Regions from separate parts of the Homo sapiens genome. Here region 2 is linked to region 1. A link means that fine-mapping ties the variant in region 1 to the expression of a gene that starts in the linked region. Tissue or cell type: whole blood. Region 1 holds a variant in brackets; the other region holds the start of a gene. All regions are shown on one strand. Distances are between the middles of the regions.

What was found. PIP is the estimated chance that this variant, and not a neighbour inherited with it, causes the effect.
Region 2: it holds the start of DEK, and the variant in region 1 is fine-mapped to the expression of DEK in whole blood (INTERVAL, PIP 0.96).

Annotation. Positions count from the first base shown.
Region 1 is chr6:18,404,365-18,408,530 of GRCh38, forward strand. All of the region lies in intron 2 of RNF144B (ring finger protein 144B), which reads left to right. Among named protein-coding and RNA genes, the nearest start is that of RNF144B, 19 kb to the left of the region's middle. The variant A/AGT (reference allele first, on the strand shown) is at 2,093.
Region 2 is chr6:18,262,113-18,266,278 of GRCh38, forward strand. DEK (DEK proto-oncogene) reads right to left here and starts at 2,418. Exons shown (of 11, transcript NM_003472.4): 1 at 2,273-2,418; 2 at 1,731-1,884. The coding sequence starts at 1,875. LOC124901270 (a long non-coding RNA gene) reads left to right here and starts at 2,420. Exons shown (of 2, transcript XR_007059486.1): 1 at 2,420-2,965; 2 at 3,618-4,166. RefSeq lists an enhancer at 1,542-2,093 and silencers at 1,979-2,038, 2,099-2,458, 2,499-2,778.

The DNA of each region.
Region 1 (4,166 bases):
GGGCAAGTTGTTTGCCTTCTCTAGACTTTAGTTTCTTTGCCTGTAAGACGGAGGGAGGGAGGGGTTGACAATACCTACCTTTATTTCCTAAGATCCATCAGTGTGCTGAGCTGTTACGTTCTTCAAAAAGATTTCAGAGAAAGGAAAGCCTATAATGATTTGACTGGCTTCCTCACTAGCCTTTTATAAAAAGGTGGTTATATAGGTAATTACAACCTCACTGCTATTCTGAGATACTCAGAGATTAGCAGTTAGGATAGAGAGAAATGTCTCTTTTGGATTTGTTCAAAGTGTGGCTTTGAAATATTTAAACTAAATATCTAGAATTAGGACTTAACAGGGAAAAAAAAGTGCCAATACAACTTTGACAGTAAATAGATGAGCACATTTATGGTGGATATAAAAGATTCAGATGAAAGGGTGTTTCAAAGTACCACATATTTAAGAACTTGCTTACTTCCAAGAACATAATAATATAATTACTTGTTGGCTTGATATGTTAGTCTAGTATCATTTTAAGTTCCTTTTATTGAGAATTCTCTGGAACCACAAGAAATAATGAGGGATCTTACTCAAGGCCAATGCCACAGAATGATTCTCTGTCCCCTCTTCTGGTCATGAGACCTGCCAACCTTTCCCAAAGCTTTCAAATTCTCCAGCTCCAGATTCCCACGTCTTCTACTACTATTAAATGGGCCGAACTAAGTTCTGCCAGTTCAAAGCACTGTATTATTCTGTTGGTTTCTGGTACCTAAATATGCTTGCTTGCAAGGTTAGTTTTTTTCTTTATTATTATTATTATTATTATTATTGTTATTATTATTTTTGAGATGGAGTCTTGCTCTGTTGCCCAGGCTGGAGTGCAGTGGCACAATCTCGGCTCACTGTAACTTCCGCCTCCCGGGTTCAAGTGGTTCTCCTGCCTCAGCCTCCGGAGTAGCTGGGATTACAGGCATGTGCCACCAGGCCTGACTAATTTTTTTTGTATTTTTAGTTGAGTTGGGGTTTCACTATGTAGGTCAGGCTGGTCTTGAACTCCTGACCTCGTGATCCACCTGCCTCGGCCTCCCAAAGTGCTGGGATTATAGGCGTGAGCCACCGTGCCCAGCCGCAAGGTTAGTTTTATGCTTTCCCTTAACTTTGCTTGGGGTGGTTAGCAGTAAATCAGTGAATTTGTCTTTGTTTGTGAAATAACTTCAATATACTCACTGCTTATATCCATTAAGAGATTTAATGACAATACTATGGTGACTTTTGTATTTATTGGTCAAGTCACAGGTTTACAATGCCGATTTTATTGGCACTATATTTTTCCACTGACAACGGAGCCACTGCAGGGTCAGATGGCATCTGTGGAAAAAGAGCAAACAGTAACAGCATGAGAAATGGATTAGAGATGACTCAAGGAGGAGCTGGCTTCCTGGACCTATGATCTCATCCATGCCTAATGCTTACCACTTACTTATTCAAGGAAAGTAGTAAAATGTGGCAAGAGAGGAAAGAACAGCAGAAGAAAACCATACTATTAAGGCCCTAATGTCTTTGTCATAGCATCATAGTCCTAGAATTGTAAGTGACCTTAGATCTTCTAGTTCCCCCACCCTCCTAATGAAAGAAGTCATTTTCTGGGATGCCAGTATGGTTTGGCATTTAAGAGAATGGGTCTCAAGTTTGGTAGCTTAGGCTTTATTTATTCAACAAATATTTGCTGTGTCTTGCATAGTTCTGATGGTTTGAATATAGTGGTGAACGATCAGATTAAGCCCTGGTTTTCAAATAACTCAACTTTTCGTATGAGACATAGATGCTAACAAGTAAATACAGAAGTCAGGTGATGGTTTGTGCTATGGAAAAATAGGGTGAGGGGGGTCAGGAGTGCTGTGGGGAAGAGGGACTTCTACTTTATTAGATGATCAGGGAAGTCTCAGTGATAAGGTGTTATTTGAGCAGAGACCTGAAGGAAATGGGGAACAAGCCATACAGATATCTGGGAGAAGAGGGTTGTAGGCAGAGGGAAGCAGTATGGAGGTCTTAAGTTGGGAGTGTGCTTGGTGTATCCTGTTACAGCAAAGGAGGCTGGTGTGGCTGGAAA[A/AGT]GTGTGTGTGTGTGTGTGTGTGTGTGTGTGTGTGTGTGTGTGTGTAGGGGGAGTAGTAGGAGATGAAGGCTAAGTCCCATGATCTTCTCTCTGCAAGCTGGAGACCCAGGAGAACCAGTGGTGTATTTCCAGTCCAAGTCTGAAGGCTTGAGAACTAAGAGAGCCAGTGGTATAAGTCCCAGTCCGAGGGCAGGAGAAAACTGATGTCCCAGCTCAGGCAGTCAGGCAGGGAGACGAATTCTTTCCTCCTTTTGTTCTTTTTAGGCCCTTAATGGATTGGATGATGCCTGCTCGCAATGGGGAGGGTAAACTGCTTTACTCAGTTTACCGATGCAAGTGCTGATTGTATTAGTCTGTTTTCACACTGCTATAAAGAATACCTGAGATCTATAAAGGAAGGAGGTTTAATTGACTCACAGTTCTGCATGGATGGGGAGGCCTCAGGAAACTTACAATCATGGTGGAAGGGGAAGCAGCCACGTCTTACATAGTAGCAGGCGAGAAAGAGAGCACCACACTTATCAAACAACCAGATCTCGTGAGAATTCACTATCATGGGAACAGCATGGGGGATACTGCCCCTATAATCTAGTCACCTCCCACCAGGTCCCTCCCTCAACATCTGGGGGTTATAATTCAAGATGAGATTTGGGTGGGGACACAGAGCCAAGCTATATCACTGATCTTATCCAGAAACACACACACACATGCCCAGAAATGAGGCATATAGGAGGCATCCTGTGGCCAAGATGACACACAAAATTAACCTTTATGCATAGAGAATAAACTACAGGGGCCAGGGTGAAAGCAAGAAGACTACTTAGAAGGCAAACGTAATAATCCAGGCCAGAGATGATAGTGGCCTGGACCAGCAGATGGTAGGGGTTAATGTCTTTGGGCAGTCTATTGGGTCATTTTCTTTCATGTAATATAGGGATAATAAGAAATCATCTCACAAGATTATATAGAAGATTACAGTAGATAATCTAGATAAATTACTTAGTACACTGCCAGAATACAGCTAGCATATATAGCTCTACTCTTTTTAGTGTGGTTATCTAGCTTTTGACTGATAATTTCCAGGATTGGGACATACCATAGTACTGACTATTCAATTATTGGAAATTTCTAAATTGAAACCATCTTTGCTCTACATTCATTTGAAACTGGTTTCTATGTAAATTCTAACTATTAGCGTTACTTCCACTCTCTAAAATAAAATTGGTTAGAATCTAATTTTACTATTCCTGGTTGAAATCTAATTCTACTCACTAGCTGCATATTATTTGAATGAAGGTTATCTTTTTTTTAGAGGGCGGACGTCAGATTACTCATGAAAAATTCTCCTATAGTGCTCAGTCCAATGTAGGAAATAGTGAGCTATCTAGTAGTGAGATAAGTAGGCCTGCTATTAGTTCCAATTCTGTCAATAACTCTATGACTCGAATCAAGTTATTTCTCTAGAATTTCCTCATTTGTAAAAATGGTGGCTTGGTTTGGAATTTTTCTTTTTCTTTCTTTCTTTTTCTTTTTTTTTTTTTTTTTCCAGACAGAATCTCATTTTGTTGCCCAGGCTGGAGTACAGTGGTGCGATCTCAGCTCACTGTGACCTTTGCCTCCTGGGTTCAAGTGATTCTCCTGCCTTAGCCTCCTGAGTAGCTGGGATTATAGGTGCCTGTCACCATGCCCGGCTAATTTTTGTACTTTTAATAGAGATGGGGTTTCACCATGTTGGTCAGCCTGGTCTGGAACTCCTGACCTCAAGTGTTCCTCCCGCCTTGGCCTCCCAAAGTGCTGGGATTACAGATGTGAGCCACTGTACCCAGCTTGAGATTTTTCTAAAACCATGATTTCTTTTTCTTCATCATTTTCTCTTCTTTAAGCTGAGAATCCTCAATTACTTTAACCAGCCAAATTGTTTTCCTATGGGAGGTTTCAGTTTGGTAAGGAAGATATATCATTCATCTTACTAGTTACTATTTTAATATGCATTTATCTTCTACATTTAGGTCCTGTAATCAAATTAGCATGATCTTATTCTATTTTGGATGGAAACATGACTGTAGTGGAAACT
Region 2 (4,166 bases), 140 kb before region 1:
CCCACTCCCAAATGAAATGCCTGCTCCCCCTTTGTCTTCTGCCATGATTGGAAGTTTCCTGAGGCTTTCACCAGAAGCAAATACTGGCGCCATGCTTCTTGTACTGTCTGCAGAACCACGAATCAATAAAACCTATTTTCTTTATAAACTACCCTGCCTCAAGTGTTTCTTTATAGTAACGCAAAAAAAAAAAAAAGCCTAATACAGAAAGTATTTCACTGTCTGGCTTCCATGATGCCTCAGTTCTAAAGTTAAATATTCAGGGTTAAGTAAAATAAAAACTTTCACAATTCTACTTGTCCCACAAACACCTCAAATTAGTAAAAAGAATAATAAATCACAGCTACAATAAAACTATTAGGGGATAAAATTTCTACAACATCATGTTTTTAAAAATAATTTGTCTAGAACAAAACATGGGATTCTTTCAACTACCAACTCTTCCCCAAGCATTACTGTGTTGGCCACTTACAGTATATTTACATGACTTCTCTAATTTTTTCCTGACATGAAGAAAATTCACCATTTCTTTGGCATCTCAACCCTGCCCCCACCAGAAGACCAAAATACAAACAAAAAATTGGAGAAAAAGTGCAGAGCCTCTTTGGCTAGCAGCGAGATAGTGCAGCCAATTTTGTTGTTGTATTAAAAATAATTTTAAAATAACATGTTGTTAAGCAATAGTTTATGTGAAAACTTATATTTAAAAAGCCATGCTTTACTTAAATATGCCCTTCTTAGGGCACATACCACTTTAAACAAACAAAAGGCACACCTTGTAATCTTAACCCAGATTGTGACCACAGGCTGGTTGAGGCTTAAAAAAAATCCGGGTTTAGGAAGAGCGCTTCAACCTCTTCCCAAGTGTGGCTGAGTCGTAAACATATACGAAATAACCGCAGACTAAGCTAATATCAAAGAATGCTAAGAGATGCGACTCGGATTTTTAAATGTTTGGAAACATGTCAAGAAGCGGGTACACCTGAAACAGACACTGCATGCATCCTGGATAAACTGCCGCAGCACACTCCTCTATTCAGTCAAGTTTCCGTTTCACACCTCCAGTCAAATCAGGGCTCATATCGCCCTCCCTTAAAACAGACACAGGTTCGAAACCGAGACAGTGCTGGGCTCACATTTAACTTTCTTTCAGAGTTCACTTTCTTCATTTTTAACTACTTTCTCAAGTAGCAACAGCTTTCACCGCTGTTTGCCAGGGAGGGAAACTTTTTGGTAAATGTAAAAATATTCGAAAGTATTCAAATACTTCCGGGTCTAGCCTTATAACTTCAGTCTTAACGGGCTGCACCAAGACCTTACAATAACTTCAAAAGGCAAAAGATGTGTAATGAAAAGGACAAAATTAGAACATCCACTTAGCAACTTCAAAGGTGCACACACACAGGTAAAAAAAAAAATCAAATCCAAGACCTACAAACTTCCCGTCAAATGATGAAATGTTAACGAACGTTTAGAGCGGACGAGAAGTCGGCTGCACTCCAATACATCTCTACCACGCTAACAAATACTTTAAAAACCGGAATACACAAAGTCAATTCTACGCCATCGCTCAAAACAAAAGCAGATAAATTGTGCACACATTCTCGCTGAAAATCACTCCGACTTCACGCCTCTAAACACCAAAAGAGCAAGAAAACTGTTTCCTGGGTGAAAAATACAAAAAAACTTCGGTCTGAAAAATTCATCAGTTGGGATGCGACTCCCCCCACCTTTTTCCTCCTCCTCCTCCTCCTCGTCGTCCTCGTCCTCTTCCTCCTCGCTCTCCTCTCTGGGACCGGGCATTTCGGGTTCTTTCTCGGACGCGGGCTGGGTGGGGGTTCCCTCCCCCTCCGCAGCAGGGGCCGAGGCGGACATGCTGTGAACCTGCATGCGGGAAGAAAGCCGGACGTCTCGGTCCTCCTACTCCCGCAGGCAGGACCGGGCGGCCACCCTGAATGATGCTACCCTTCCCGCGGGACACCTGCCCTGAAAGTTGCCTCCTCCCATAGCCGGGACCGCAGCGCTCAGTCCCCAGGGGCGGCTTCCCTCCCGCTCCGCCGCCGCCGTCCAGGGATTCCCGAGGCGGGAAACCGCGCCCGCTGCCCCGCGTGCGCGCGCGCCCGCCCGGCCTGCGCTGTTCCCGGCCCGGCCCGAGCTGCCGGCCCTCCACGTCCCCTCCCCCGCCCCAGGCCGCCGTCCAAATGGCCGCGTCCCTCCCCCGTCGGCCGCGGCAGGGGCGACCGGGCCTCCGGCGTCCCGAAGCAGCCCTTACCGCGGATTTCGGCCGCCGCGGGCCTGGCACGCGAGGGCACGAGGAGGTTCTGGGAGGCGGCGGCGGCCGACGCCGAGGAGAAGGCGCGCGGGCCGCTGTCTGGCGTGACGCTCGCGCCGCGCGCTCGGCTCCCCAGAATCAACAAGATTTTCAAAATGGCGGTTCGGGAAGGAGAGCGGGAATGCGGCGACCAATCAGGGCCGCGAGCTGGGAGTTGGCGGGCGCGGGGCGGGGGAGGCGGGGCGGCCGGGTGCCTCCGCGGGAAGCTCGGGCGGGCGGGACCGCGAGGGGTCGCCTCGGCCGCGGGCGGAGGGATGCGCGCGCGGGGCTCTCCCCGGCTGCGCCTGGAGTGTGGTCGGCGCTCGGGCCCCGGAGTGCGGGCGGGCTGTGTCCCGCGGGGCGGGCGGGAGCGGGAGGCGAGGCGGCCTGGCAGCGCGGAACGGAAGGACGCTAGGGGGCCTGCGTGTTTATTGTTTCCACGGTCGCTTCCTGGAAAAGATGATGAGCAGTCCCGGGCCGCGGAGGGGCGCGGCGGGCGCGGTAAAGAAGTTTAGAGATCTCCGAAGTCGCTATCGACAGTGTTACTCTGAGGCGGAGGAGAATTAATCAGCGGTCTCATCAATGCTCCAGAAATCATGCTGGGTGATAGATAACTCCCAAATCTGTATTTCTGAGGACCGCATCGCTTGTAAGGTGCACCGAAAGGAAAAAGATCCTACCTGCCACGTTAAAGGTTCACATAGCCAGCCACATAGATTTACACCCCTGTAAATATAAGGGGAGAGGCTCCCTCCCACCCCATTCCTTCTCCTCTCCTCTCTCACACACACTCTCTGTTTTATAATAGAGGAAATATGTTATTTGGCCGGGTCCAGACCCTTCTCCCAGAGTTCTAGGTCATCTATGCAGATGCTTTTTACACATTCAACACTGCAGACACTCAAAGCAGTATCTTCCCTGCTCAATGCTGCCTTCTTTTGTATGTGATTTCCTTTATTTTCTCCCAACTCTTCAACCACTAGCTCACCTGAAGGATCCTTGTACTCAGTGGACTTAATAGAAATGTGATCAGTGAAATTTGCCTGGACTCTGGGTTGCAGGACAAAAATTAGACATTTCCTTTGAATCTTCCCTTTTCCTTTTGTTCCCCTTCCAAAACATACGCGAATAGTGTCATTTCTACCCTCAAACGGTATGCCATTTTCCACACTATTTATCCCACTCAAATCCTATCCACACTCCACAGCTCATCTCTCCTTCTTGCTGCCTGCAACGTGGTTGGGAGTGGGGGGTTGTGTTTCACCCCTATTTGTGTTACAGCTCTTTCAATCCTACCATTTGGCAGGTCCTGAGTTCTGGTCCTGTGTCCAGGAAGAGTGAGGCACGCAAACAACTGGAGGGTGAGCAAGGTGGACAGGAGCTTCACTGAGGGACAGAACAGCTCTCCTGAGACCTGAAGTGGGTTGCTCCTTTCTGCAGGGGGGTTGTCCCGACTAGCGTCCTGCCCTCAGTGGAGAGGAGACCCATAGTGGGCAGCTCCTTTCTGCAGGCAGGTGGTCCTGACGAGTTGAGGAGACCAAAGTGGGTAGCTCCTTCCTGCAGCTGGTAGGCCTGAGCGCTGGCTGAGTCTGGGGTTTTTATGGGCTCAGAAGGGAGGAAGTGTGTGCTGATTGGCCCATGGGTGGGCCCAGAAAAAGCACCACTAGTTTTCACTCTGGGCTGCAGACTCTACCTGGAACTGGCCACCAGGCCCCCCAGGCTTCAGGCCATCCCTGGCTTGAAGGTGGGCAGGGACCTACCCCTTTCCCCCCAGGAACGTGTCTGCCTCCCACCATCAACATGTCATCCATGGCGCCCAGGCTGTTTGTGCTGAGGGGTGCCTGCAGGCCCACGC